Homo sapiens: one gene and its partner. The protein of the gene in region 1 purifies or fractionates together with the protein of each later gene. This does not show direct contact. Each region holds a gene or a part of one and is shown on either strand. Other genes may lie near its edges. The genes, in order: SEZ6 and LMF1.

Region 1 (3,812 bases):
ATTCAGTCAGCGCATGGAGTACCCATTCTGGGCTCTGCACTACAAGGCACCCCTTAAGGAGCTCACAGTCTAGCTGGGGAGGTGGACAGCTGTAAACAGTTGGATGGAAGGCAGACTGCTAAGAGCTAAGATGGGGGATGCCCCAGGCTTTGGGGATCTGAGGGAATTCCCAGAGAGGGTGATGCCAGGGCCAAGTCCTAAGGGAAGGCATCATGGGATGACTCTTCCAGGCAGAGGGACCAGCATGTGCAGCTGGGACTTGGGAAAGAAGGTTTGGCCCATTCAGTTAGCTGCAAGCTGTTTAGTGCAAAGTGGGGGTAAAGAACAAGGGACGAAGTGTCTAGGGGTGGACCCAGAGAGACTGACCTTGATTCAGGAGCCCTTAGAGAGGTGTAGGGGGCAGGATTGATTTGAGAAAAATGACTGCAGTGGAGGTGGAGATGGGTAGAGTAGGGAGCAAGTGTGGGCGGGGTGACCAGTGAGGCAGCTACTGCATCATCAGGGGAGGGATGGTGGGGTCTAAACCACATGTGGTTGTGGGGATGGAGGGAGAGAAGCAGAGAGATTTAGAGGGGAGTATCATGGTGACAGAATTTGGGGATGAATTGATGGGACTGGGGGAAGAGGGACAGGGAAAGGCTAAGGAGACCCCATGTTGCACATTAAGGGACACCATCCACATTGCACTATGGTGGTTCTGCTCCAGGTTTCTGACCTGGACAGGAGTGGCTTTGGGGGAACAAAAGGAAGATTTGGGTTTGTGGAGGTTGAGGAGCCTGTGGGACATCTGTGAGGACCTGTAGCCTCAGGCCTCGGGATTAAGAGAAAGTCTTAATCCTAACGGAGGGATGAGATAACCCAGGGAGGCTGGGGACAGGAGGCTGGCCTGTAGATTTGACTTTCCTATCAGCTGATCACCTCTCTGATGGTGTAATCAGGTCTGTCTTCCCCCACCTCTGCATCCCAGAAGCCAGCACAGAACCTGACCCAGAGGAACTGCTCAGAGAGGATTTGCTGAATGAATGAATGAATGAGTGAAGCTCCATGACTCTCTCAGGCCCAGCGAGGCAGCCCTGTGTTCTCTGCTTAGCCCATAGATTCAGATGTAGGGTTTATACTCACCCAGTCCCCTGCCCATCCAAGGCTAGAGCCCCCTCCCACAGCCCCTCTTGGCTTAGGCCATTGCCAAACACACGGGGCAGAATCTAACCATTTAGGCCCATCTCCCAGCCCTGGCCTTAGGCGATGCCCCACAATTGATGCCCCTAATCATCCCCACATCCTCTCATAGCATGTGCCTCTCTGAAGAAAGAGAATACACCCGCCCCAGCTTTGCCCTTGCCAGATCCAGATCACTCACCTTGATTTCCACGCCATAGCCAGGGTAGACAGAGATGTAGAAGAAGCAGTCCAGGCCAACATCAGTGGGGGAGCTGAGGTCTGTAGGGGAGTCCAGAGAGCCCTCTGGGCCTGAGAAATTCCAGCTACAAGGGCCTGGGAGGCAGGAGGAGACACAAAGCTAGTGCCAGCTCTGGTGAAGTGGTCCAACTAAGGCTGAACCGTGTGTGTGTGTGTGTGTGTGTGTGTGTGTGTGTGTGTGTGTGTGGTGAAGACCACCTCTTGTGATGTCTAGTCTCCTGTTGAAGGAAGGGGACCACCTTTTATTAGGCACCTACCATGTGCAATCTTTTTTTTTTTTTTGTATTTTTAGTAGAGATGGGGTTTCACCATGTTAGCCAGGATAGTCTCCATCTCCTGACCTCATGATCCGCCCGCCTCAGCCTCCCAAAGTGCTGGGATTACAGGCGTGAGCCACTGCACCCGGCCCCCTAACATGTGCAATCTTATCTCAGTTTTCACAGTAGCTCAATGAGGTTTGTTTTCTTTCTTTTTTTTTTTTTTTTTGAGACGGAGTTTTACTCTTGTTGCTCAGGCTGAAGTGCAATGGCGTGATCTCAGCTCACTGCAACCTCTGCCTCCTGGGTTCAAGCTATTCTCCTGCTCAGCTTCCCGAGTAGCTAGGATTACAGGTGTACACCACCATGCCTGGCTATTTTTTTTTTTTTTTGAGACAGAGTCTCGCTCTGTCACCCAGGCTGGCGTGCAGTGACATGATCTTGGCTCACTGCAAGCTCTGACTCCCGGGTTCACGCCATTCTCCTGCCTCAGCCTCCTGAGTAGCTGGGACTACGGGCACCCCCCACTACGCCCGGCTAATTTTTTGTATTTTTTAGTAGAGATGGGGTTTCACCGTGTTAGCAAGGGTGGTCTCGATCTCCTGACCTCGTTCCACACGCCTCAGCCTCCCAAAGTGCTGGGATTACAGGCATGAGCCACCGCGCCCGGCCAATTTTTTGTATTTTTAGTAGAGACGGGGTTTCACCATGTTGGCCAGACTAATCTTGAACTTCTGATGTCAGGTGATCCACCTGCCTCGGCCTCCCAAAGTGCTGGGATTACAGGCATGAGCCACCGTGTCCAGCCAGAAGTTTATTTTCTTATTGCCATTTTACAGATGAGGCTCAGAGATGAGATGTTAAATAGAATTCCTAGGGTCATGTTATAGTTGGAAGAATCAAGATTTTTTCTTTTTTGAGACAGAGTCTCGCTCTGTTGCCCAGGCTGGAGTGCAATGGTGCAATCTCAGCTCACTGCAACCTCTGCCTCCCAGGTTTGAGTGATTCTCCTGCCTCAGCCTCCCGAGTAGCTGGGATTACAGGTGCCCACCACCATGCCCGGCTCATTTTTGTATTTTTAGTAGAGATGGTGTTTCGCCATGTTGGCCAGGAGGGTCTTGAACTCCTGACCTCAGATGATCCACTGGCCTCTGCCTCCCAAAGTGCTGGGATTACAGGCATGAGCCACTGTACTTGGCTGAAGAATCAGGATTTGAGCTCAGGTCTATCTGGGTCCAATCTACATGCCTCCTGCAGGCTGGCCCTTGGTGCCAAAGGGCAGGGCAGGCTGGCACAGTGTCAGAGACAGGCTTTTAGGGGCCCCGCAGCCTCCCCCATCCCCATTTCCACATCTGCAAGCCAGCAGGTAGCTGACCTGGTGTCTGGACTGTGGTGATGGTGGTGGTGATGATGGTGGTGGTAGTGGTGGTCTCCTCATCATCTCCTGAAGCTGTGGAGGAGGTGATGGTCCCCTGGATCCCGATCCCTGCGCCCTGGGACACAACCTCTGCAACCCACGGCCTTCCCATGTCTCCAGGACCCTCTTGGGTTGGTGTCCAGGCTCTGCTGGGGGGTGTAGTGCTGGCTATCTCCCCTGGGCCTAGGGTGGGCACTGCCATGCTGGGCCCTGGAGGTAGGGGAGCTGTGATTCGAAGCATAGGGGACTCTGACTCCGGACTCCAGGGTCCCTCCTTGGACTGGGGCTGAGTGGGTACCGCAGCCATGGCTGGAGTGGGGCTGGTAAAGACAGGGCGGCTGTCCTGGTTGGCCAGGCGGGGAAGGGGACTTGGGGTGAAGGGTGCAGGTGGGTCAGGCTGGAAGGGCAGTGCTGGCCTCAGCTCCTCATCTCCCTTTTCCAGCCCCTCTTGTAGGAATTCCTCAAGCAGCGGGTGGTGGTTGAGCAGCTTCAAGGTGGGGGCTGTTGTGACAAAGTGGACGCCTCGTTCTGGCTGCTCAGGTGTGGGGGCTGCTGTCAGCTCGCCATCTGTCTCCTCGATGCCTGGGGCTTGTCCTTTCCCCACGGTTGGGGCCTCTAAAGAGAGTCCTGAAATAATAAGGGATGGTCAGAGGTTCTCCCCCTGCTCCAGAGAGCAGCATCACGCCCAACTCGAGTAGTGGGGGGGCCCGCTCTCTTTT
Region 2 (3,812 bases), on another chromosome or scaffold:
AACAGTCATCCCAGAAATGCCGTTCTCTGTTGATGGTTCTTACTGGCCGTGGTTAAATTCTGGGCCTCAGCACAGTGACCTCAAGTATTTTTTCTTTAAGGGATGTGCTGCAGAGCTCCGAAGTAGGGCAGTGCTGTTTGCTTTTTAAACAAGCAAGTATTTTATAGAAGAACTTGTAAAACCAAGTGGTGCATTTCATTAGAACTCAAGTGGCCCGGAGAAAAGAAAAAGAACTCATTTCCCATGAGCTCTTAGAGCCACTGAAAGCTCAGAACAAAACCAACTGAGCAGGGTTTCAAGTATTCTTTTTGGTTTCATTTTCTCCTCAAATTTTCTGAAGAACAGCTGAGAGTTTAGCAAATACGGGTGCAAACGATTCTGCCTGCCACGTCAACCCTGCCTCGGGTGTCATCTGACGAGGATGCCAAGCTACAAGGGCTGCGGTGAGACTCAGAGACACGCTACCAATGGCACCGCGGCCCCACCTCGCCGAAGCAGCTGCCGGGGAGACGCGATAAAACTGCCCCACGCGGAAAAGAAGGAAGGGCGGTGAGCAGGCGCACAGAACAGACGCCACAGTGCGGCACGCATGCCTCCACGCCTAAAGGACAAAACTAGCATGGAGATCCCCTAGAGGTCGGATTTTCAACATAATCTCAGTGAGCCCAGGACTCCAATGTGACAATGTGGAACTGGAAAGACGAGCAAGAAAAGCCCCTCCGTTCCCGCCAGCGTTGGGCATTCCTTCTGCAGTCCAGGCTGTCCCCGTCACTCGGGATCACAGCCAAGCGGTGGGTTCTGTGTGGTGCTTGGCTCCTAGGGCCTCGCGGAAGCCATGTTCTTCTCCATTCAGCTTCATGGAGAGACTTTCCCAGGTTTCAGCCCACGCTACGAAGCTAGACAGGAGAGTGGCCCCCACCCGCCCTGTTTGGAACCCAGCTGGGGCATGCGGTGTTTGGAACACATGGGCAGATTGGGGAGAGGCCAGAAGAGCCTCATCCAGAGCCAAGGACAAGCCTTGAGGCTGAAGAGCTCACCAAGGCCACTACAAGAGAGCAAAAAAAAGAGCCTCAGAGACTCCTCGATAAATAACCAGAACAGAGAGCAAAGGTGGAGAGCAGGAGGGCAAGGCACTGAGACTTTAGAAGCTTCCAGGGAGAAGAAGAGTCAGATGCTTGAAGATGCCTCCTCAATGCTGCAAAGCTCTGAGGGAAAGTGGCTTTGATGGAGAATTAGAGATCCGGGCAAGTTGGTCCTTTCTGGAAAAGCTGCTTGGGGATACACTCCAGCAAAAAGAGAATCCACCAGCAAACAGGAAGGCATGAGCAGCCCAGGAAGTATGAACACAACCAAGGGAGGGCTGTGGCAGTATCTGTCCTGCTGGGCCGCACCTCGGGGCTGGAGGTGGGTAGAGGGGAAAGAAGGGGTAATGGCTGGAAAAGTGTCCCATGCTGACACTAAGCCCTGGTAGAGACCACCTGCTACGGGTCAGCACATTTCACTGAGCAGGAGATGCCCCTAGAAGACAAGGGATAGAGGTATAAAGAAAGTCCTCTCCCTGACTGCAAGGAGCTAGAGGGGAGACAGGCACAAGAACAACACTGGAATGGGGACAATATCAGCCGCAAAGGAAGCAGAGAGCAGGGCTCCGGTGGTCAGCCCTGGGTGGGGTCAGGAGTCCACGAGTGATGAGGGCTAAGTCTGAAGGCCAGAAGGGTGTCGGCAGCCACGGAGAGAACAAGTACAGTTAACCCTGGGAAGGCAGAGGCCAGGTGGTCTCAGGACCACGGTCAGGAAGAGATGCCTCACGTGGCGGGGACACAGCGGGAGCAGTTCAGGCACCACGGCTCGTCCACTGGGGCCCCAGCCTCTCACTGCAAGCAGTGCAGGTGGACATCTGCCCCAGAGGCAGCAGGGAGCGTGTGTCCCAAAGCCCCCAGCACTCATGCCCTGTGCAGGCGCCGAGCAGCCGGCCCTGGCCGGGGCGGTTCCCTCCTAGGCCTGTCCAGGACTCGGCCCCCACAAACACATGGACCGACAGACGAAATCCCTCAGGAGTGTCTCTGCGCCGACGCCATGGCACCCACGAAAAGTGCCACACATAAAGTCAGTCTGCAAATGCCAACGTTACCCAGTCTTCATGTCACATTTCACCTACAGATCCCTTCCGAATTGTAACAATATCTCATAAATGTTTGAGCTTCAAAGGAAAGGTCCTTTCCGACGTTCAGATATATATACTCCGTGGCTGCCTGCGAGCCGTCTCCCAGGCGGGTGTGTCCTTGGTCCGCCTTCTGGGAAGTGTGCACAGGCAAGGAATCCCATGTCAGCCTCAGGACGGCCCAGCGGTCACTCTCACCTCATCAGTGACAGGAAGGTCTTGATGAGCAACTTGGCCAAGGCCACACAGCTAAGGTGTGGCCCACCAACCCTGAGCCCCACTACTTCCACCTGTCACAGCTTCCAGAAAGTTCTCTGCAGTGAACTGCTATCAACCCAATTCTGACCAACTGTAATTACACTGTTTCCAGATAACACCTTAATTCTGAGGCAGTTAAAATGCATTGTGTACATATACTATGTGACTCTCATCAATAGCAAACCAACGTCAGTTCAGTCCAGGAGAACCCACCCAGGGTGGGCAGCTCTAGCCTAGGGTGTCTTCAGTAGCACCTGCAAGGCTGTCCTTCCCCCGTCTTGTCAGGGAATCCAGCTCTACCACTGGCGCTGTAACAGACACAGGGCTGCTGGAAATTCCAGGAGTCCAGCCCCAGCTGCCTGTGGCCGCCCATGGACGGACCTGGCCAGGCCCCCTGGGAGGGGGATTTCAAAGCATCAAGGAGCCGGCCTGGCTGACGAGGCTCCAGACCAGCTGTTTGCCACACACGCCCCCGTACTGCAGGGTTGACCAGTGAGGGCCTCAATCTTCCGCAGGGAACGCCGGGCCACAACGTCGACGCACGACCCTGGGGGTTCCTGCCATAAAACAGTGAGGGATTCTGGCCAGGCTGCTCTGCCCTCTGTTCCGGTGAGCCTGGGCATGGTGCCCACTCTTGGGTTCGGTTTCCTTATTGCGCACACAGACAGCAGCAGGCCTGACTGCAGGAGGCACCGGCACCCATGGGCGGCCGGCACTGCCCCTACACACCAAGAACATGGCACCCAGGTCCCGCTGCTTAGGCCGGAAACTCCTGTCACATAAGCTTTTACTCGTCCAGATTTCAGCCATTCCTGGGAGTGACATCTGTGCTGAGGGGAAGCTCAGTGTCAGTGTCAGGCATCCCCGACCACCTCGGGCAGCCTCGGTCCTCCCAGGAGCCGTCACGGCCCGAGAACGCCGCTGCCCAGATGTGAACCGGGTGTCCAGGATACGCAGGCTGCACAGTGGCGTGAATGAAGGGCAGGGCTGAACTCCAGGGCCTACGGACAATCGCTGCACAGCCGGGCCAGTGGCTGACCCTGCTTCCTCGCTGTCCACTGGGGGTAGTGGCGTTGTCACCAGGAGGTCAGCACCGGGCAGGGTGCTACTTCAGCATCTGCTCAACGCAGTAATCACACTAGGGACCCGAGTCCACACGTCAGGAAGACAGGTGTGTCTTCAACTCTGAGCCCTGTGAAAATGCCGCTTTCCGCTAACACACTCCGGCTCCCACAGCACAGCAGGGCATGCCCGACACCCCAGGACGCCCGCGGTATGCACGTCTGTGTGCAGTGAGCACACCCCTAGCACCTACACACCTCGGTGGCAGCACATGGAAACGCCCAGGCCCGCGGTGGGAAGGAGCCAGCCCCAGGACGGATGCAAAGTCAGG

Evidence for each region.
Region 2: the proteins of SEZ6 (region 1) and LMF1 purify together in Homo sapiens (affinity purification with mass spectrometry; one large-scale study listed by BioGRID and IntAct). This does not show direct contact.

The regions. Positions count from the first base shown.
Region 1 is NC_000017.11:28,978,320-28,982,131, forward strand, and holds part of SEZ6 (seizure protein 6 homolog isoform 1 precursor), read right to left. Parts: intron 3,721-3,812; coding exon 3,052-3,720; intron 1,495-3,051; coding exon 1,361-1,494; intron 1-1,360. UniProt on the Homo sapiens protein: May play a role in cell-cell recognition and in neuronal membrane signaling. Seems to be important for the achievement of the necessary balance between dendrite elongation and branching during the elaboration of a complex dendritic arbor.
Region 2 is NC_000016.10:964,377-968,188, forward strand, and holds part of LMF1 (lipase maturation factor 1), read right to left. Parts: intron 1-3,812. UniProt on the Homo sapiens protein: Involved in the maturation of specific proteins in the endoplasmic reticulum. Required for maturation and transport of active lipoprotein lipase (LPL) through the secretory pathway. Each LMF1 molecule chaperones 50 or more molecules of LPL.